Homo sapiens: one gene and its partners. The protein of the gene in region 1 interacts with the protein of each later gene in a biochemical or structural test. Each region holds a gene or a part of one and is shown in the gene's direction. Other genes may lie near its edges.

Region 1 (7,026 bases):
AGGACGTACTGGTTTAGATAGTGGTCAGGTGCCCCTGTAGTTAAGTGTAATCATGTGTTGCTTAACAGGGATGTGTTCTGAGAAATGTGTCATTAGGCAATTTGGTTGCTGTGTGAACATCATACGGTGTACTTACACAAACCAACATGGTATAGCCTACTACACTCCTATTCTATATGGCAGGGCCTATTGCTCCTTGGTAACAAAACCTGTACAGCATGTTACTATAGCTAATACGGTAGGCAGTTGCAACACAATGGTACCTATTAGTGTATCTAAACATAGAAAAAGTACAGGGAAAATATGGTATAAAAGATAAAAAATGGTACATCTTTATAGGGCATTTACTATGAATGGAGCTTTCAGGACTGAAAGTTACTCTTGATGAGTCAATGAGTGAGTGATAAGTGAATGTGAAGGCCTAAGGCCCTTACCATACACTACTGTAGACTTTATAAACACTGTACACTTAGACTACACACTAAATTTATAAAAAAGTTTCTTCAATAATTAACCTTACTGTAACTTTTACACTTTGTAAACTTTTATATTTTTTTAACTTTTTGACTCTTTTGTAATAACACTTAGCTTAAAACACAAACACATCGTATAGCTGTATAAGCATCTTTCTTTATATCCTTATTCTGTGAGGTTTTTTCTGTTTTTAAAAATTGTTATTATTTTTTCCTTTTTAAACTTTTTCTTAAAAATGAAGATGGAGGCCGGGCTTGGTGGCTGACGCCTGTAATCCCAGCACTTTCGGAGGCCGAGGTGGGTGGATCACGAGGTCAGGAGATCGAGACCATCCTGGCCAACATGGTGAAACCCTGTCTCTACTAAAAATACAAAAATTAGCTGGGCATGGTGGCACACACCTGTAATCCCAGCTACTTGGGAGGCTGAGGCAGGAGAATCGCTTGAACCAGGGAGTTGGAGGTTGCAGTGAGCCGAGATCACGCCACTGCACTCCAGCCTGGCGACAGAGTAAGACTCCGTCTCAAAAAAAAAAAAAAAAAAAAAAGAAGATGGAAACACACACATTAGCCTAGGCCCACACAGGGTTAGGATTATCAAGATGTCACTTAGCAATGGGAATTTTTCAGCTCCATTATCGTCTAATGAAACCACCACTGTGTATTTGGTCTCTTGTTGAACAAAGCATGTTGGAACATTCTATGAGGTACCTTATGTTGCTTTTAAAAATATAAACAGATTTCTTTCAATAGAATTACACATTTCTTTATTGGTTTGCATTCTAAAAACGATCAAATTTAGTACAGTTGTCTCTCAGTAAAGGGGATTGGTCCCAGGACCCCTGAGAATACCAAAATCTGTGGATGCTGAAGTCCCTGACATAAAATGGCATAGTATTTGCATATGCACATCCTCCCTTATACTTTAAATCACCTCTAGGTTACTTATAGTCCTAATACAATGCTATATAAATCGTTGTCATACTGTGTTTTTAAAATTTATATTATTTTTCATTGTTGTATTGTTACTTTTATTATTTTTTGAACATTTTTGCTCTGTGATTAGTTGAATCCACAGATGCAGAGCTGGTGGATGGGAAGGGCCGACTACAGTTTATTGTTTAGCCAAATGGTTCTAGACTGCTGTTTACATGTTTCTGATCAGAACAAGCATTGCAGGACTTTAGTTACAGAAGTCCATGGAATTGATTGCATAGATTTAATGGCTGCCCATGTCTACCCAAAGGCCTATTTTGACTCTTGATTCTTAGCCCCATTCTGAAGAGGTAAGGTTATTGTATAGTTAACAGATGGACAAGACTTTTCCTTCCTTCCTTCCTTCCTCCCTCCCTCCCTCCCTCTCTGCTTTCCTTTCTTCCTCCCTCCTTTCCTTTCTCCCTCCCTCCTCCTTTCTCCTTCCCCTCTCTATTCCTCCCTCCCCCGTCTATTCCTCCCTCCCTTTCCTTCCCTTCCTCCCTTTCCTCTCTTCTTCTTGCTCTGTTGCCCAGACTGCAGTGCAGTGGCATGATCATGGTTCACTGTAACCTCGAACTCTTGGGCTCAAGGGATCCTCCTGCCTCTGCCTCCCAATTAGCTAGGACTATGGGTATGTGCCACCATGTCCACACTGAAGAAATAAACAAAGCTTCCTTAAATATGTGGTAGAATTTACCAGTGAAGCCATCTGGGCTTGGAGTTTTCTTTGTGGAAAAGTTTTAAATTATAGCTTCTGTTTCTTTAACAGATAATAAGGGCTCTTCAGGTTTTCTGTTTCTTTGTCAGTTTTGATGAATAGTGCTTTTCAAAGAATTTGTCCATTTTATCTAAAATTTAAAATTTGTTGTTTTAAAGTGTTCATAATATCCTCTAATTATCTTCTTTATAGGATTTGTAACGAGGTCTTCTTTTAATTCTTTGTTTTGGTAATTTGTATTTTCTCTCATTTATTTCTTGTTCAGTCTTAGTAGGGATTAACAGTTTTGTTAATTTTTTCAAAGAACCAATGTTTGGCTTTGCTTGTTTTCTCTTGTTATCTCTTCTATTTCACTAGTATCTGTTATTAGTTTCTCTCTTCTTTGGGTTTAGTTTGCTGTTCATTTCCTAACCTTTTAAGTTGGAAGCTTAGAGTGGTGGTTTTTACTTTTTCTATTTTCAATAATTTTCCCTCCAGGGACAGTTTTGGCAACCCTTCATGCTATCGTTCAGTTTAGAATATTTTTCTAGTTTTCATTGTGATTTGACATGCGGGGTTATTTAGAAGTGTGGTGCTTTATTTCTTAACATTTGGAGATTTTCTAGTTATTTTTCTGTTGTTGCGTTTCATGTAAATTCGGTAGTGGTGGAATCTATGGGTTGATTTTTTTTTTCTATCAGATTTGAAAATTCTCAGCCATTGGTTTTTCTAGTATTGCTGATTTCCCATTCTTTCTTTCTGTTCCTTCTGGGCTTTTAATTATGCCCAATATCTCATACTTTTTTGTGTTTGTCTTTTTCATTCATTTTTCTCTCTGTGCTTGGTTTGGATATTTTCTATTGACCTGCCTTCAAGTTTGTATTGTGTGTTGTTATACTCATCCAATTTAGATATGGTATTTTGCAGTTGTAGAATGTTCATTTTATTCTTTTTTATGGATTTTATTTCTCATAATACACTATCTTTTTATCCCTTTTCTTTTTTTTTCTTTAACATGTTTATCATAGTTTGAAGTCCTTACCTAGAGATGCTATTCTTTGGATTACCTCTGGGTCTGCTTCTATTGAATATTTTATCTCTTGATTAGTGGCTACTTTTTCTTGCTTCTTTGCATGTTCAATAATTTTAAAATATGTGCTGAACATTGTGGTTGAAACGTTGTAGAAGCTGTGAATTGTCTTCTTTTGAAAGATGTCACATTTTGTTCTAAGAGGCAGTTAAATTATCAGCTCTTCATCTTTGTTCTGTCAAGGCCTGGTATAATGTTTTCTTAGGTTAGGTCTGTTTGAGCTTTGTTTATATTTCTTCAGTGTGGTCCATTTTTCTAAGGTGTGGTCTTTGTGGGGTGTCACTTGAATGTCCATGATCTTACCAAGATTTCTCAGCTTTGGCTGGGCTCCAATGCGAACAACTAACTTTCCAGCACTGACGTTTGGGATTTTAATTTACCAGTATCAGCTTCCTAGTGGGTCTCCTGTGTTTTTGTCTAATCATGTGCAGCCCTGGAAATGAGCAGGAATGGATGTGAATTTCTAAGCAGACTGGTGGGGTTCCCTTTCAGTAGCTACCACGTGTCAAAGCACTCTGACCCCTCAATCCTGGCCAGTTTTGTTCAGAACTCTGATCTCTTATTTTCTCTAACAAGTAAGATCAATGTTTCCTGTTTAGACTTCACTTTAGTACCCATTCCTAGAAAATGCTCCCAGGGTAAAGTAAGTCTTGGGGGAAATGTTGGACTACTTCATGTTTTCTTCTTTTTCAGGGATTGCAGCCTTGTGTTGATTTCAGTCCAGTGCCTACAAAGAGTTGTTTTTTATGCAAGTTAGGCCATTCTTACATTGCTATAAAGTAAACTTGAGGCTGGGTAATTTACAAAGAAAAGAGGTTTAATTGGCTCATGGTTCTGCAGCTGTACAAGCCATCTGCTCGGCTTCTAGTGAGGTCTTGGGCTGCTTACAGTCACAGTGGAAAACAAAAGACGGGCAGCATGTCATGTGGTGAGAGTGGGAGCAAGAGAGACAGAGTGGGAGGTGCCACACCCTTTTAAAACAGATCTCATGAGAACTCACTCACTGTTACAAGGACAGCACTAAGGGAATGGTGCTAAACCATTCATGAGAAATTCGCCCTCATGATCCAGTCACCTTCCACCAGGTCCCACCTCCAACACTGGGAATCACATTTCAGTGTGAGATTTGGTGGAGACGACATCCAGACTATATCAGTATATTTTGTTCGGATTTTAAAGTTACTTATGGTTGGAGATTAGGTCTCATATAAGCTGTTCTCTGTGGCCTAAAGCTGATTTCCTTTCATTTTGTTTTATTGACACATTAACTGCCTTTTACGTTAGATTTATTGCTTTGAGTTATACTAGAAGAAACTTTGGTTTGGTTGTCATTATAGTATAGGTCCTGTATTTCAGAAAACAAGGTTAATTGGGAAAACAGCTTATGTCAGTTAATTTATGATGTAAAATTGGATCTCTTAATTGTCTGTTGTGTTCTTTGTGCTTCAAGGAATCATCTGCTGCAGTTTGCTTTAGAGTCACCAGCCAAATCTCCTGCTTCTTCCTCTTCAAAGAATCTTGCTGTCAAAGTATATACTCCTGTAGCCTCCAGACAGTCTTTAAAGCAGGGGAGCAGGTTAATGGATAATTTCTTGATCAGAGAAATGAGTGGTTCTACATCAGAGTTGTTGATAAAAGAAAATAAAAGCAAATTCAGCCCTCAAAAAGAGGCGAGCCCTGCTGCAAAGACCAAAGAGACACGTTCTGTAGAAGAGATCGCTCCAGATCCCTCAGAGGCTAAGCGTCCTGAGCCACCCTCGACATCCACTTTGAAACAAGTTACTAAAGGTAGGAAGTTATTTTCATATGTGGAAATATGGACATCTTTTCATCCACATGACATAAGAATAAATAGGCAGCATCTTTGAGGGGGAAGGAATGGTAAAGGACAAACCAGATTTTACCATATCACAAACCTCAGACATTGTTGTAGATATGTTTGTTCTCTTTCTCTCTCAGAAACAGGAATTCAGGCTGACTGCTACAAAAAGGAAACAATTTTAATTAGTTCAGCCTTCAAGTATGGCAGTAGCTTTCTGTTTTCAGCTTTTAATCTTTCTTCCCCTCATTCAACATATCAGTTCCCATTTAATCTTGAAAAGCTCTTTTTATCTTATTTTACCACCACTTGAATGCCTCCTCACTGTTCTGCCTGCCATATAAAGCCTGTGACAATTTGAGGCCTAACCTAGTCATCCCGCCTTATTGCTCACCTCTCTGTCTCAGAAGTCCTGCTCTAGCCTCCCCACTGTTCCTCCAGTACACTGAGGAATTGGCAAACTACAACTGGCAGATCTAATCTGGCTTGCCACCTGTTTTTGTAAATAAAAGTTCACATACCCACCCTATTCTCTGTGACTGCTTTCATTCTACAGTGGCAGAGTTGCATGGTTGTGACAGAGGCCATAGGATCCGTAAAGTCTAAATTCTACCTGGCCCTTCACTAAGAATGTTTGCCGGCCCCTGTTCTATACCTTTCCAGACTCTATCCAGATCCTCACTATTCATTTGTTATGTTAGAAAACACTGTCTCACATCACAAAAGTGCTATAGCACTTGTTTTCTGGACTGTTTTGTATCCCATTTGCTTAACTGTTTGATGAATATGTCAGCTTGTTTAACTTTTTGTTTCTGTATCTTCTTTCCAGTGAAGTTTAGAGCACCTTTTAGGCAGAAACTCTTAGACATCTTTGGTATACCCATACCACACGTAGTGCAGAGATGTGAGTGTGTATTAAACTTAGATTGAAATTAGTTTATTAGTACTTAACGTGTTTACATCTTTTAAAGATATATAAATTTCACTTATATTTTCTACTATGTCTATCCTTAGTCTTTTTACCAATTGACAGTTCTTATTGTAGTATTTTTTAGCTTGATGGTTAACTGTTTTTCCCCTAGCGGAACCTTTTTTCCCAAATGAAATTTTACGATAAACCATAACGTATAAAATAGATAAAACAGATTGTTCTGTTCCACCTGACCTCCTTCTGCCTATTATCCATGGTGGTCTGTAGGCCCCGAGATACCCCCACAGATCCCTGCAACTTTATGAAATAGTTTGAGAATGACTGTGTTCCTTAATTTTAACATTATATATGGAATCATCAGTGAGAGCTAAATTAACAAATTTGTAACCATTGACAAAATTGAACTCAATAAATTATTAAACTACCTTTCCTTCACTCGGCCCTTGGGCCAGGTGTGTCTTACTTAAGTCGTTACTATTGCTTCTGGGCTAAACATGGATAGCTCCTAAGGGTTGGGAAAATTTAAGATGAGTTCTATAGTTTGGTCATACCTTGGTAGAAAAGATGTAACCGAAACATTTTTAATAAATGAACTTTCAAGCTTATTTGCAGTCTCTTTCTCTGGGACCAGGACTTCAATTTTGTGACTTCCCACAATTTAGCCATTACCCAGTAACCAGTCTGTCCCACTCCTGTTGTCCCGATGGGCCATTCTTTTTCTTTTCTGCTTTTCTAAGTGCATGTTAAGTTGGGATTCTTTTTTACTTTACTTGCTGAAAAGATGCCAGTTTACATACTTTTGCCCCTTCTACAATTAATAAAGTCTCTCTTTTTCTTTTTAAAAAATACAGTGGATTGTCCTGTTTGCGGGGTTAACATTCCAGAAAGTCACATTAATAAGCATTTAGACAGCTGTTTATCACGCGAAGAGAAGAAGGAAAGCCTCAGAAGGTAAGGAAGTTGAGCAGAACCATTGAGCTACTTTAGCTGGGTGCCTCTTGTGCTTACTTGGGGGAAAATTACAGTATTCCTTTTATCCTG
Region 2 (7,026 bases), on another chromosome or scaffold:
GCCTGGGCAACAGAGCAAGACTCTGTTTCAAAAAAAAAATTTTTTTTTTTTAATGTGGCAGTAATTCATGTTCTTTGAAGAAAATTTAGAATATATTAATAGTTTGCTGCCTTTTTATTTATTTATTTTTTTGAGGTGGAGCCTCACTCTGTTGCCCAGGCTGGAGTGCAGTGGCATGATCTTGGCTCACTGCAACCTCTGCCTCCTGGATTCAAGTGATTCTCCTGCCTCAGCCTCACGAGTAGCTGGGACTACAGACGTGCGCCACCACGCCCAGACAATTTTTTTTTTTTTTTTTTTTTTGTATTTTTAGTAGAGTTGACGTTTTGCTGTGTTGGCCAGGCTGGTCTTGAACTCCTGACCTCAAGAGAGCCACCTGCCTCGGCCTCCCAATGTGCTGGGATTACAGGCATGAGCCACTATGCCTGGCCATTAATAACTTGCTTTTTTTCTTCTCTTTTTATATACTATCAATGTTTACACAGTTGAGATCATAATATATATAATTTTTGTATCCTGGTTTTTCCTTTTAATGTTGTAGGCATTGCTCTACATTATGATAATCTGGTAAACAGGCTTTTTTGTATTTTTTAAAATTTTTTGTAGAAATAGAGGTCTTACTTTGTTGCCCAGGCTGGTCTCGAACTCCTGGTCTCAAGCGGTCCTCCCGCATCAGCCTTTTGAGATGGGAGGATTGCTTGAGCCCAGGAGTTCGAGGCTGCAGTGAGCTATGATTCCACCATTGCACTGCAGCCTGGGTGACAGCAAGAACCTGTCTCTTTAAGAAAAAAAAAAGAATAAAAAAGGAAGAAAGAAAAGTTGGCAGCTGGTGTCATGATTGTTCTCCTGAATTTGTGTCATGAAGGACTGGAGAGAACCAATTCCCACAAGTGTGATGGCAGCCCTTGTAGATCGTGGTTTTCGTGAGTTTCACTTGAGGGTTGTTCTGATGCTGTAGGTACTAAATGCTGTTTGCACAGTCTTTGAGAGAGCGGCCTGCAGGTGTTAGCATTAGAGGGATGGCCTGCGTACTTCCAATGAGACCCTCATTTAGGACATTGGATGTGTCTTATGTCCTGGGTTTTTGTATAGGGAACGATTTGTGTCACATGGTCTCTGGGTCCCACTTGCAAACTTGTGTTTTTCTTCTCAGCATGACCGACGGAGCCCAGCAAGCCTTGAGGAGAACCATGGAAATCTACTCTAAAACCACTCGCTTCGCCCTTGCTTGTAATGCTTCGGATAAGATCATCGGTGAGTGGGAGCTTTCGGTGGCTGGGGGCCACGTGGTGCTCAACTGGGCTTTTTTCTTTTTTATAGATGTGGTCTCCCTCTTCGCTCAGGCTGGAGTGCAGTGGTGCCATCACAGCTCACTGCAGCCTCAAACTCCTGTGCTCAAGTGGTCTTCCTGCCTCAGCCTCCCAGTAGCTGAGACTACAGGCCTGTGCCACCACACCTGGATTTTTTTTTTTTTTTTGAGACAAAGTCTCACTCTGTCGCCTAGGCTGGAGTGCAATGGCACGATCTCAGATCACTGCAACCTCCACCTCCAAGGTTCAAGCAATTCTTGTGCTTCAGCCTCCTGCGTAGCTGGGATTACAGGCTCGCACAACCACACCCAGCTAATTTTTTTTTTTTTTTTTTTTTTTTAAGAGATGGGGTTTCACCATGTTGGCCAGGCTGGTCTCAAACGTCTGACCTCGTGATCGCCTGCCTCGGCCTCCCAAAGTGCTGGAATTACAGATGTGAGCCACTGCACCTGGCCTCGCCTTGGCTCTTTAGCGCTGGAAGAGTAGGGATTTTTTTATTGTGTAGCATGGGCCAAGCACTATATAATCAAGTTTTTAAATTTATATTTTTTTAATTGACAAGGAGAAATTGTATATATTATGCACATGTTTCCCATTGTAATCAACTTTTAAATTTAATCTTACATAATCCTATGAGGAGGTATTATTCGCTTCAGTTTAGAGATGAGAAAACTGGAGCTTATCCTGATGTTTAGGATCTAAGGAAAAAAGAGAAAGAAAACGAGCTTGGAGAGGTTGAGTAGTTTCCCCAAAGTCAGAGCAAGTGCAAGAGCAGCTGGGATTGGAGCCCCAGTTCTATCACCCTCTTGCACTCTTGGAGGCACAAGGATGTTGTTGATGTCCCCTGCACGGTGTCACGATCACAGTCGCTCTCCAGATACCTTCTTGTGCTATTCATGTGCTCTGAGTACTTGGTATAGGCAGTATCTGTACATTGGAATTTGTTGCCTCCGGGAAGCTCCTCTCTCAAATCCTGCAGTCCGTCTTTTCTCTAACCTTACTGTTTGCCCTTCCACCTCCCTCCCTGCAGCCTGTCTGCTTCTGCATGGGTTTGTCCCGCCCCAGGTCCCAAGAGTGCTCTAGTCTGTCAACTTCCTGCTGGTTTCACATCCTTCTCTTTCTTTTTTTTGTAGAGAGAGTCTCGCTCTGTCGCCCAGGCTGGAGTGCAGTGTTGCGATTTCAGCTCACTGCTATCTCCGCTGCCTGGATTCAAGTGATTTTCCTACCTCAGCCTCCTCAGTAGCTGGGATTACAGGCATGTGCCACCATGCCAGGCTAATTTTTGTATTTTTCTTAGAGACGAGGTTTCACCATGTTGCCCAGGCTGGTCTAGAACGCCTGGCCTCAAGTGGTCTGCCCACCTCGGCCTCGCAAAGTGCTGGGATTATAGGCGTGAGCCACCACGGCTGGCCCATCCTTCTCTTTCTGACACAGGCTGCCTGCACAGCCCAGCTGTCCTCTTTCCTCATTTTTCATTGCTCTCTCAGCCGCTTTCTTTGCCTCACTTCTGCCCTGCTGAACCCCAACCATATGAGCTCATCCATCTGACAACCCCCTTGCCACCCAGGCCGCTGTTGCCGACGAGCGCATTACCAAATATGGCACCCACAAAGTCATGGCTACCAGCCCTGGTGGGGCTCTCAGCAGTGTCAAGAATCCTTTGCATTCTTTTCCCTTCCCAAAATCGCACTGATTTGTGCATTGATTCATTAACCCATTCACCGAACGCTTAACTCTGGTTCTTAGTAGCCGCCAGGCACCATGCTAGTGGAGAGCTCGTGGAGTTTAATGAGAAGTATTCTCCACTTTGCAGATGCCAGCAATGAAATGGAGAAAAATGCATTCCTAGGTCTTGATTTGGCAGGGCACAGTGGCTCATGCCTGTAATCCCAGCACTTTGGGAGGCCGAGGCAGGTGGATCCCCTAAGGTCTGGAGTTCGAGACCAACCTGGCCAACATGGTGAAACCCCATTTCTACTAAAAATACAAAAATTAGCCGGGTGTGATAGCGTGCGCCTGTAATCCCAGCTACTCAGGAGGCTGAGACAGGAGAATCACTTGAACCTGGGAGGTGGAGGTTGCAGTGAGCCTAGATCACACCACTGCACTCCAGCCTGGGCAACAGAGAGACTTGGTCTCAGTAAAAAAAAGAAAGAAAGAAACTGGCCAGGCATGGTGGCTCACACCTGTAATCCCTGCACTTTGGGAGGCTGAGGCAGGAAGACTACTTGAGGCCAGGAGTTCGAGAGCAGCCTGGGCAACAGCAAAACCCTGTCTATGAAAAAAAAAGAAAGAAACTGGGTTGGCCCATTCAGATTGAATTGTCATGTGCCCAGAAGGGCCAACATCCAGCACACACCAATTCCAGAGTCCACCTGGGCCAGGGCTGACTCATCTAACAGCTTGTGGCAGGCACATGGATGTGTTTCTACTGGAGGATCATTTCCCCGTCTGGAAGCCGTGGCTAGCCAAGGCCATGTGGGCAGTGCCAACTGAGGCCTCTGTCATTGCTTATTGGTTGACACCTTGACATATCACCCTGTGTTTACCAAGTCTCTCTCTCTCTCTTTTTTTTTTTTTTTTTTTTGGAGACACAGCCTCGCTCTGTTGTCCAGGCTGGAGTGCAGTAGTGTGATCTTGGCTCACTTCAGCCTCCAACTCTCGTGCTCAAGCGAGTCTCTTGCCTTAGCCTCCTGAGTAGCTAGGATTACAGACGTGCGACACCACACCCAGCTAATTTTTGTATTTTTAGTAGAGATGGGGTTTCACCATGTTGTCCAGGCTGGTCTCAAACTCCTGTCCTCAAGTGATCCTCCCGCCTCAGCCTCCCAAAGTGCTGGGATTCAGGCGTGAGCCCTCGTGTCCGGCCTACCAAGTCTCTATTGAGTGCCTGGGGCTGTGTGGATTGTGCAGCTGCAGCCTTATGACCAAAGAGCTAGCAGGATGATGCCGGCCTCTGCAGGGAAGCCTCACTACTGTCCCGTCTCTGTTCAGAGCCCATTCAGTCCCGCTGTGCAGTCCTCCGGTACACAAAGCTGACCGACGCCCAGATCCTCACCAGGCTGATGAATGTTATCGAGAAGGAGAGGGTACCCTACACTGATGACGGCCTAGAAGCCATCATCTTCACGGCCCAGGGAGACATGAGGCAGGTATGTGGGCTGCTACCATTCAGGCGTGGGCATCCTGTGCCTGCCATGCCCCTTCCATGGGGAAGGGGAGGGAAGTGACAGCTGCACAAGGTACAACAAGAGAAAGAGACAGAGACCTGGCACCCTCCTGGGACAGTGGGCTGTCTAGCTCGGACTCCAAGAAGAGAGGCAGGGAAGGGCAGAGCTTTAAAAGTCACCCCGGAGGCTGAGGCAGGAGGATCACCTGAGGTCAGGAGTTCAAGACCAGCCTGGCCAACATGGTGAAATCCCATCTCTACTAAAAAAAATTAAAAAATTAGCCAGGCATGGCCAGGCACAGTGGCTCACGCCTATAATCCCAACACTTTGGAAGGCCAAGGCGGGTGGATCACGAGGTCAGGAGTTCATGACCAGCCTGGTTAACATGGTGAAACCTCATCTCTACTAAAAATACAAAAAATTAGCCAGGCGTGGTGGTGGGCGCCTGTAGTCTCAGCTACTCGTGAGGCTGAGGCAAGAGAATGGCATTAACCTGGGAGGCGGACCTTGCAGTGAGCTGAGATAGCACCACTGCACTCCAGCCTGGGCGACAGAGCGAGACTCTGTCTCAAAAAAAAAAGCTGGGCATGGTGGTGGGTGCCTGTAATCCCAGCTACTCAGGAGGCCGAGGCAGAAGAATCGCTTGAACCTGGGATACGGAGATTGCAGTGACTCGAGATTGTGCCACTACACTCCATGCTGGGTGACAGAGTGAGACTCTGTCTCAAAAAAAAAAAAAAAAAAAAAAAGTCACCCTTGGCCCGGTGCGGTGGCTCATGCCTGTAATCCCAGCACTTGGGAGGCGGAGGTGGGAGAATCGCTTAAGCCCAGGAGTTCGAGACCAGCCTGGGCAACATAGCGAGACTCCTGTCTCTACTCAAAAAGAAATAAATATAAAAATCATCCTTGACATGTGTTTGCTCCTGAACAGGCGCTGAACAACCTGCAGTCCACCTTCTCAGGATTTGGCTTCATTAACAGTGAGAACGTGTTCAAGGTACAAGCGCTAGTGTGGGTGGTACTGTCAGCAGAAGCCGTGCTTCCCTGTGGGGGCCAGTGGGGCTGAAGGGCTGGGCTGGCAGTGGGGACGGACATCTAGCTGCTCTTGTGGGTGCCAGGGAGCCCACCCTGCTCCCGTCTGTCCTCTCCCTATTGCTGCTTTGCTGCACAAGCTGGAGAGTTTCGGGGGACCTGGAACGTCACTTGTGTGTGGTAGGTGAGGGAGGACCACGGATGCATCAGACCCAGGGTCGAGCAATTTCTGACGTGTCTTATTTGATCCCAGCGACTTCCCTGCACAGAGGTTCTCACCATCACATTGTGGGTGATGACGTGGGCCCAGGGGATCCCCTGGCCCCTAAAGGGCAGGCAGGAGCACTGTGCTGTTCCCCAGTAGCCTTCAGACCCCACACCCTGGGTTTTTTCTGCAATGCTGTGCCCTGCTCCCCACTTCTGCCCCTGGAGGGTGGGTAGTAACCCTCAAAGCCAGGCTGAGGAAAAGGTTTCTCACTTACTCTCCCATGTCAGCAAAACATTTTTCTCTTGGGAATTCTTTTGAAAACTGCTTCCGCATCCTGATAACTCCGCGTCTAAATGCCATTTGAGAGATTCACTTCCCCCTTATTTGGGGGAAGAAACTGGGAAGGGCTGTCCAAGCTTTCAGCCTATAGCTGTTTCTTACCAGGTTTGTGGACAACAGACAAGCGATTTTTGAAGCATCTGGGTAGATCTGGGCAGTGAATGCATTTTCGAGGCCACTTAGGAAGGGGAGGCCCGCTCAGAAACAGGGGTGATGGTTCGGGCCCTGTTTTGTCTTGGAGGGTCACTGAGGGCTCAGGAAACCATGGCTTCCACCGGGAAAAGGCAAGGGCAGGTGTGGGTGACCTCTGGAGCCATCAGGAGGCTTTCATTGGGAAGATGTAGGGGTCGACATTGTACCAGAGGCAGAGCCTCATGCCACTGCGGAGAATGCTGCAGGGAGGACGGAGTCCCCAGCACCATGCACCTGCCTGCTGGAGTAGCCTGACCCCTTGTTTAGGGTGTCAGGCTGAGGCTGGGGGACCTTTTGTAGGGAAGGCCAGTTCCTACTCCGGGGTGGAGGTGGGAATTGGCCCAAAAGACCTCCCAGTTCTAAAGTGAATTCCAAGTGGTTCTGGGCAACTGACCCCCCAAGTGATCTAAGACAGATGACTTGTGACTTTAAAGCTGTCCCCAAGTGAGCATCCTTCACAGGCCCTTGGTTGCTCTCTTGTTCATCTGTCTTATGTTTGGGAAATTTATCTTCCTGGTGCCGGAAGCACTTCTCTTTGATGGTGAGAGGAGCATTCCCCAAACTCATCCTGGTTGCTGGAGAATTTGATGAAAACAACAGGTTGAGAAGTTTTACCCATAGATTGCCTGGAAGTCGGTCTGTTGGGGCCTCCCCGCTCACATTGTCCCTTCTAGCCCCTGACCGCCTTTCCTTTCCCTTTGGCCAGGTCTGTGACGAGCCCCACCCACTGCTGGTAAAGGAGATGATCCAGCACTGTGTGAATGCCAACATTGAC
Region 3 (7,026 bases), about 140 Mb from region 1:
CTCTGCTACCTTTTAGCTTTGTGACCTTGGGCAAGTTACTTTTCTGTGCTTCAGTTTCTTCATTTGTAAAATGGGAATAATGATAGTACCTCCCAATAGAGCTGTGAGGATTTAAAAAGTCAGTCTGTGCAATGTACTTAGACCAATGCTTGGCACATAGTAAGCGCTCAATAAGGGTTGGCTATTTTTCAGAAGTTATGATGTTGAAAATTTTAGATAATTTGAATTTGCTAGTTTACATTTGACTATTTTTTAAGACATTAAGGATTTGTTAACTTCCTAATGAATATAGATTAGAAAAATAATATTAAGGAGTCATAATAATATATATTAATATTTCTGTAGTTTGTGTCTAGAAAATATATTTTTCTTATGTGCAGTGTTTAGCAGTAGCATTAAAAAATGAATGGAAATCCCAGATAAAGTATAACAAAGTTATTGTCTATTATTTATAATGTAATATTATCTGTTTATCATTTTTATTAGGTTAATAATAATGAAATGGTTGCATTACAACGAGATCCTAATAACCCTTATGATAAGAATGCAATTAAAGTAAACAATGTGAATGGAAATCAAGTTGGCCATTTAAAGAAAGAGCTTGCAGGTGCTTTGGCCTATATCATGGACAACAAATTGGCACAAATTGAAGGGTAATGTACTTTCAGAATTTAGTTTTAATAATTGTGAATTATAGTCATCTTTGAACTTGTTAGGGCTTCTTGTTAGAGCCTATAAAGGTATGCTAACAATTTCTATCACTGTACTTTTGGTACGTGTTAAATAAATGTTTTATTTCTCCTTTTACATACTTCTACTACCCCAGCCATCAAACAATTGTCCTCTCATTTTCCTATGGAATTATTACCATGGAGAAAATAGACCTTGGTTCAAATATTAGGAAGTACATTCCATTTCTCCAAACCTTTTGGTACCTAGGTTTAGGAATTTGGAAGTGTTTATTTGTTTATTTATTTATTTATTTATTTTGAGACGAAGTCTCACTCTGTTGCCCAGGCTGCAGTGCAGTTGTGTGATCTCGGCTGACTGCAACCTCCGCCTCCAGGGTTCAAGCAACTCTCCCTGCCTTAGCCTCCTGAGTAGCTACAGGTGCCTGCCACCATGCCCAATTAATTTTTGTATTTTTTAGTAGAGACAGAGATTTGCCATGTTGGCCAGGCTGTCTCGAACTCCTGACCTCAGGTGATCTGCCCGCCTCGGCCTCCCAAAATGCTGGGATTACAGGCGTGAGCCACCGTGCCCAGCCTGGAAGTGTTTGTTTATATCAGAGGTTATAAACTGGTATTCTGTGATATGATGTAGGTGAATTTCATTTTGCCCTGCAGTGTTTTAGACATTTTTTCGTTCAGTACTAATTATTGAAATAGCTAAGTCCGCATTTTATACATATTAATTTATTTTCTTAAATACAAAAAACTTATTTTTCTCTTGACAAGTGGGAAATCTGGCAATGCAGGATGAGTTGTCACTTCCATATGACAATAGTTGACTGGAACTCTCCCTTTAGCTAGGGCATATGCTCTCCCAGTTTTATCACCTGTTTCTTTTTTCTTTTTCTAAACTCTTTCAATCTTTCAGTTACCTTTTCTCTTTTAGGCATTTGTACTTGTGATCTCAATTTAAGTATCTGGAATATTTAGGATCTTGATATTCTAATTCTAATTTTTAGGATATTCATATAATCCTAGGTGAGTTTGAAGAGAAAATAAATGCTCATAATGTCTCACTTTGTTTTCTCCTTTTTCAGTTTATCAGGTTTTTCAGTTATTGAGAATAACTTAGTGAATCACAAGTTCTTGCATTTCCCATTTTCCAAGCAGAATGAGTTACTACCCTCAGTGGTTCCGTTAGCCAAACTCTACCCTTTGATTTAACTTATTTTACTTATATTACAATCTTGTTTACAGGCCATCCTTGCATTTTTAAAACTGCTTTATTCCATTTTCTCAATTTTTTCTGGCACTCTGTTTCTAAAAATCACCCTTCTGATTGTTTATGGTTCTATTTCTTTTCCTTTTTTTCTTTCAAGTCTGCCCAACTAGTTCCTTATTACTTTACTTCAATGTAAAATGTAAATGATACACTTAAAATATTGAACTAATTCTTAGTGGGGATAAAAAGTAATGCTTCTGATTTCCCTTTCTTTTTCTCCCAAATATAATAGGGTAGTTCCTTTTGGTGCAAACAATGCTTTTACCATGCCTCTGCATATGACTTTTTGGGGAAAAGAAGAAAATAGAAAAGCGGTTTCAGATCAGTTGAAGAAACATGGATTTAAATTGGGTCCTGCACCAAAAAGTAAGTTTAGGGTTTCACTTAATATTATTCTGATATTGTAAGATGCAGGGATTATGAAACATTTATTCTCTCTTGGAGTTTGTTGGCTAATTTGTGCTCAAGGCTCCAAGGTACAACTTTTTTTCAGGAGTCTTTTTGAGGAAATCTCTGATTTTTCCTTTTGCCTCTATTGAAATAGATTCACACATAAAAATATACACAGTAAGAGTGAGGGGATATTAAAAAAATTAAAGAAAAAGTATATATGCAATGAAGTCTCATATATACCCTCCCCTAATTTTCCCTAATGGTAACATCTGGAAACCCCTGACTTTAAACATTCTTTTTGATAAATTTTAGGCAAAAATAATCTTCTGATAGCGAATGAAAAGGATTGCTTGGCAAGAGTTTGTTCAAATAATGTGGAATTACTTGTTTTTTTAGTGATTTAGTATTTAGCTTTTAAAATACCTCTAAAATACAAGGCTTTTAATGCAGTTTGTTATGCACGTTTTATTTATTTATTTGTGTATATATTTTGAGACAGAGTCTTGCTCTGTCACCCAGGCTAGAGTACAGTGGCCACGATCAGTGGCTGAGTGCAACCTTGACCTCCTGGGCTCCAGCAGTCCTTCCACCTGAGCCTCCTGAGTAGCTGGGACTACAGGCGCACACCATCACGCTCTGCTAATTTTTGTATTTTTTGTAGAGACAGAATCTCACCATGTTGCCCAGGCTAGTCTCAAACTACTGGACTCAGGCAAACCACCTGCCTTGGCCTCCCAAAGTGCTTGGGTTACAGGCATGAGCCACAGCACCCAGCCCTGTTAATGCATATTTTAAAAGCTACTTAATAAAAGATAAAAACCTACTTTATTTGATGGCTTTATTCTTTTTATTTTGTAAATTATAGCTTTAGGATTCAATTTGGAAAGTGGTTGGGGCTCTGGAAGAGCTGGACCAAGCTATAGTATGCCAGTGCATGCTGCAGTACAGATGACAACTGAACAGGTGTGCTTCTCTTTTATTTTGTAATCTAAAAGTGAATTTTAAATGTTGCAGGTTTGTATTTAAAAGAACAGGATGAATATGTACGTGTGGGTATTTGTGGTCTTCAAATATATTAAGTTATAATGAAACATGTTATAGAATAAATAGAATATATATATGTTAACATTTTATATAAAAAGTACTGATAAGGAATAAATCCATACGTGAACATTTGTACCCAACATACAAAACACACACGTTCCTGTTTATGCACGGCATATTTTTGTATCTGAAATGTTTTAAATGTTCAAGTAGTAATTTTAAGAAAAAAATTGAAGCTGAGACTTAACTCCTTTCAGTAATTTTGCAAATGCAGTGCTAAAGATTTAACTCCAAATTCTTCACATTGTCTAATTTGTAATTTAGGATGAGTTATGCTGAATTTCTTTGAAAAAAAAGTATATAAAGTAATTAATGCAGATCAATTTAAAAATAACATTAAAACTTTTTTGATGTTTGTATCTACCAGTGTTAGTCCTTTTATCTACTAATTGTAGTTACCATATTTACCCTGCTTATTGTTAGAAGGACTTGAGCTTGTTTCTGGTAGATAAGCCCCCGGTTACTTCTGATTTTTTAGACCTGGCCTGATTTCTTCTGAGCTGCTGCTGTGTTCATGTGTTAATTTTCAAAAATATCTGTATCACATATATGTTGATATAAAATTGGACTAACCTAGTTTAAATAGTCAATTAAGTTAGCATAATAATAAAAGTATCCTATAGTGCATGGCAAGTTCCTTATTGCAGTAATAATAAATGGAATGTCATTGACCTGGTAGGACTGAGAAAATATTTTGAATACAACTGATAGCATCACAGAATTTTAATGGCAGAAGGAACCTTAGAGACAATCTAAATTTAGTTCATCCCTTTCATTTTATAGGAATAAGACATGGGGCCATAAAGGTCAAGTCTTGCTGAAACTTACATATAAGCTTATTTGTGATAAAACTGTGACTGAAACTCGGGACTTAAAATTCTTTTATATTCTTTTACCTCCTAACAACTAAAGCACCTGTTCATTCGCTCTTCAGTGAGTAGTGTAATTCTAGAGTTGATTTATGTGCCTTTTTGGCGTTTGACTAGTTTGTGGTTTTTAAATTTAATTTAATTTCAATTTCTTAATTTTTTGGGACAGGGTCTCACTTTCTTGCCCAGGCTGGAGTGCAGTGGCATAATCATGGTTCACTCTATCCTCTACCTACTAGGCTGAAGTGATCCTCCCATCTCAGCATCCCTAGGAGCCAGAACTACAGGCATGCACCCCCATGCCTGGCTAATTTTTTAAAAATTTTTTTGTAGAGATGGGATCTCTCACTATGTTATCCAGGCTGGTCTCAAACTCCTGAGCTCAAGTGATCCTCCCACCTTGGTCTCCCAAAGTGCTGAGATTATTGGCATGAGCCACCACTCCTGGCCCGTTTGACATTAACGCCAGTTAATTAAATGATTTCAAATCTGACTTAAATGCAAGTATTATTTTAATTAGTTTGTTTTACATTGTTTCTTGTTGCTGTTTATTGTAGCTTAAAACAGAATTTGACAAATTGTTTGAAGATTTAAAAGAAGATGATAAAACCCATGAAATGGAACCAGCTGAGGTATTGAACCAATATTTTTTATTTAAGACTACTCAGAATGTTTAAATATACTTAGAATCTACTTTTTGTTTAATCACAGGATCTGCATGTGAAAAAGGAATGGCTTAATGTATTTCGCTTTATGACTTTTTATTTATAGGCTATTGAAACACCACTGCTTCCACATCAAAAACAAGCTCTAGCTTGGATGGTGTCACGGGAAAATAGCAAAGAACTTCCACCATTCTGGGAACAGCGAAATGACTTATACTATAACACAATAACAAATTTTTCTGAGAAGGACCGACCAGAAAATGTCCATGGAGGAATTTTAGCTGATGATATGGGTTTGGTAATTATTTTTTTCTTTAGTTAATAAAATCTAATTTTGTGATTATGATTTTCTAGAAAGTAATTTTGAAGTAAAAAGAGATAGGAATATGTTGGTACCAGTTTGGGACTAGATCTTACTATCTTTGTAGAACACAGTTTTTCCTGTAGTTTTTAGTTAAAATAGTGGTATAAAGATGTGTTCCTCAGTTTTCTTTTTTTTTTTTTTGAGATGGAGTCTTGCTCTGTCACCCAGGCTGGAGTGCAGTGACGCGATCTTGGCTCACTGCAGCCTCCGCCTCCCAGGTTCAAGCAGTTCTCCTGTCTCAGACTTCCAAATAGCTGGGATTACAGGCATGTGCCACCATGCCCAGCTAATTTTTGTATTTTTAGTAGAGACAGGGTTTTACCACGTTGGCCAGGCTGGTTTTGAACTCCTGACTTCAAGTGATCCGCCCGCCTTGGCCTCCCAAAGTGCTGGGGTTACAGATGTGAGCCACCCTGCCTGGCCATGTTTCTCAATTTTCTTTGCTCTTTGAAATTCAGGGTGACCTGTCTTTCATAGGTTTTCTTTTAAAAAGTAAAGACAAAACAATGTTATGTGAAATTGTATTCCATCACAAATATTGTGTTATGCAGAGTATTAAATAGATACTTATGTGTCCTTACACTAGCAGTTTTTATATTTTTCAGTCTCAGTAACCCTTTCTACTCATAAAAATTACTGATTTCAAAGAGCTTTTGCTTTTGTGTGCTGTTATCAGTAGTTATAGTATTAGGCAGTGGTAGCTAAAGATAGCAGTACAAACTCATTGCTTGTTAACATAAATAGCATATTTTTAAAAGAAAAATAACTATGCCAAAACATTAACATTTTTGTTGCAACAACTGGCATTGTCACATTTTTGCACATCTCTGTGTTTGGCCGAATAGATGGCAGCTGAATTCTCACCTGCTTCTTCATTCAGTCTGTTCTGTTAGGTTGTTTTGGTTGAAGTATATGAAGAAAATTTGTCCTTACGACGGTATGTTGCTGTAAAGAGAGGAGTATTGTAATAGCTTTTTAGATAATTGCAGATTTCTTTGATATACTGCATCAAAATTCAATAAATATTAGTTTATTAAAGGTTAATTGTTGTAATATGGAACGCTAAATCATATCAGTGAGCTTTTTATACCCTGTTTTGTTAAAATCTATTTGTGTATCTTGCTCATTGAATGAATATTTTACCCATGTATGATTTTATAACACCAGGCATTGCTCATTTAGAAAATGTTGGTTCATTGAGTTGGGCAGACCTACTAAATGTTGATGTATTTCATATGCAATATCCAAAACTTACATTCATTAATATTACCACTGATGTTATTAGAAAATCATTTACATTTTGGGAAGGCACTATGTTCATAGTGTCACACACAACTTTTCCAACATTCTAATTTTCTATTGAAAACTCACATTTTATCATTGACAAGCTCAGTTGTTTCCTTTGTAGATGACAGCCTCACTTTGTTCATTTTCTAGAAAGTATCTTTCAGACACTCAGTCGTGATTGATAGTTGTCATTCAAGTAAAAATGGTGTCGCATGAAAAAAGTGACTAGTTGAGCTTATAACTCCCATCTTGAGTGATTTTTCTCTAGCTAACCCTCATAGTTTGATATGCAACAGAAGTAGTTAATATGTAGTTTCCATTTCACTACACAGAATATTAAAAAGATTTGTACTGAAGTAATGAGACTTAATAAAATTAATGTGTACTGCTT

Evidence for each region. The genes of interacting proteins can lie anywhere in the genome.
Region 2: of the proteins of RAD18 (region 1) and RFC2, one has a biochemical effect on the other in vitro, tested with the Homo sapiens proteins (one study listed by BioGRID).
Region 3: the proteins of RAD18 (region 1) and HLTF form a complex in vitro, tested with the Homo sapiens proteins (2 studies listed by BioGRID).

What each region holds. Positions count from the first base shown.
Region 1 is NC_000003.12:8,939,464-8,946,489, reverse strand, and holds part of RAD18 (E3 ubiquitin-protein ligase RAD18), read left to right. Parts: intron 1-4,685; coding exon 4,686-5,023; intron 5,024-6,836; coding exon 6,837-6,936; intron 6,937-7,026. UniProt on the Homo sapiens protein: E3 ubiquitin-protein ligase involved in postreplication repair of UV-damaged DNA. Postreplication repair functions in gap-filling of a daughter strand on replication of damaged DNA.
Region 2 is NC_000007.14:74,237,374-74,244,399, reverse strand, and holds part of RFC2 (replication factor C subunit 2), read left to right. Parts: intron 1-1,153; coding exon 1,154-1,254; intron 1,255-4,304; coding exon 4,305-4,462; intron 4,463-5,411; coding exon 5,412-5,477; intron 5,478-6,957; coding exon 6,958-7,026.
Region 3 is NC_000003.12:149,069,508-149,076,533, reverse strand, and holds part of HLTF (helicase-like transcription factor), read left to right. Parts: intron 1-486; coding exon 487-653; intron 654-2,185; coding exon 2,186-2,319; intron 2,320-3,211; coding exon 3,212-3,309; intron 3,310-4,876; coding exon 4,877-4,951; intron 4,952-5,090; coding exon 5,091-5,282; intron 5,283-7,026. UniProt on the Homo sapiens protein: Has both helicase and E3 ubiquitin ligase activities. Possesses intrinsic ATP-dependent nucleosome-remodeling activity; This activity may be required for transcriptional activation or repression of specific target promoters.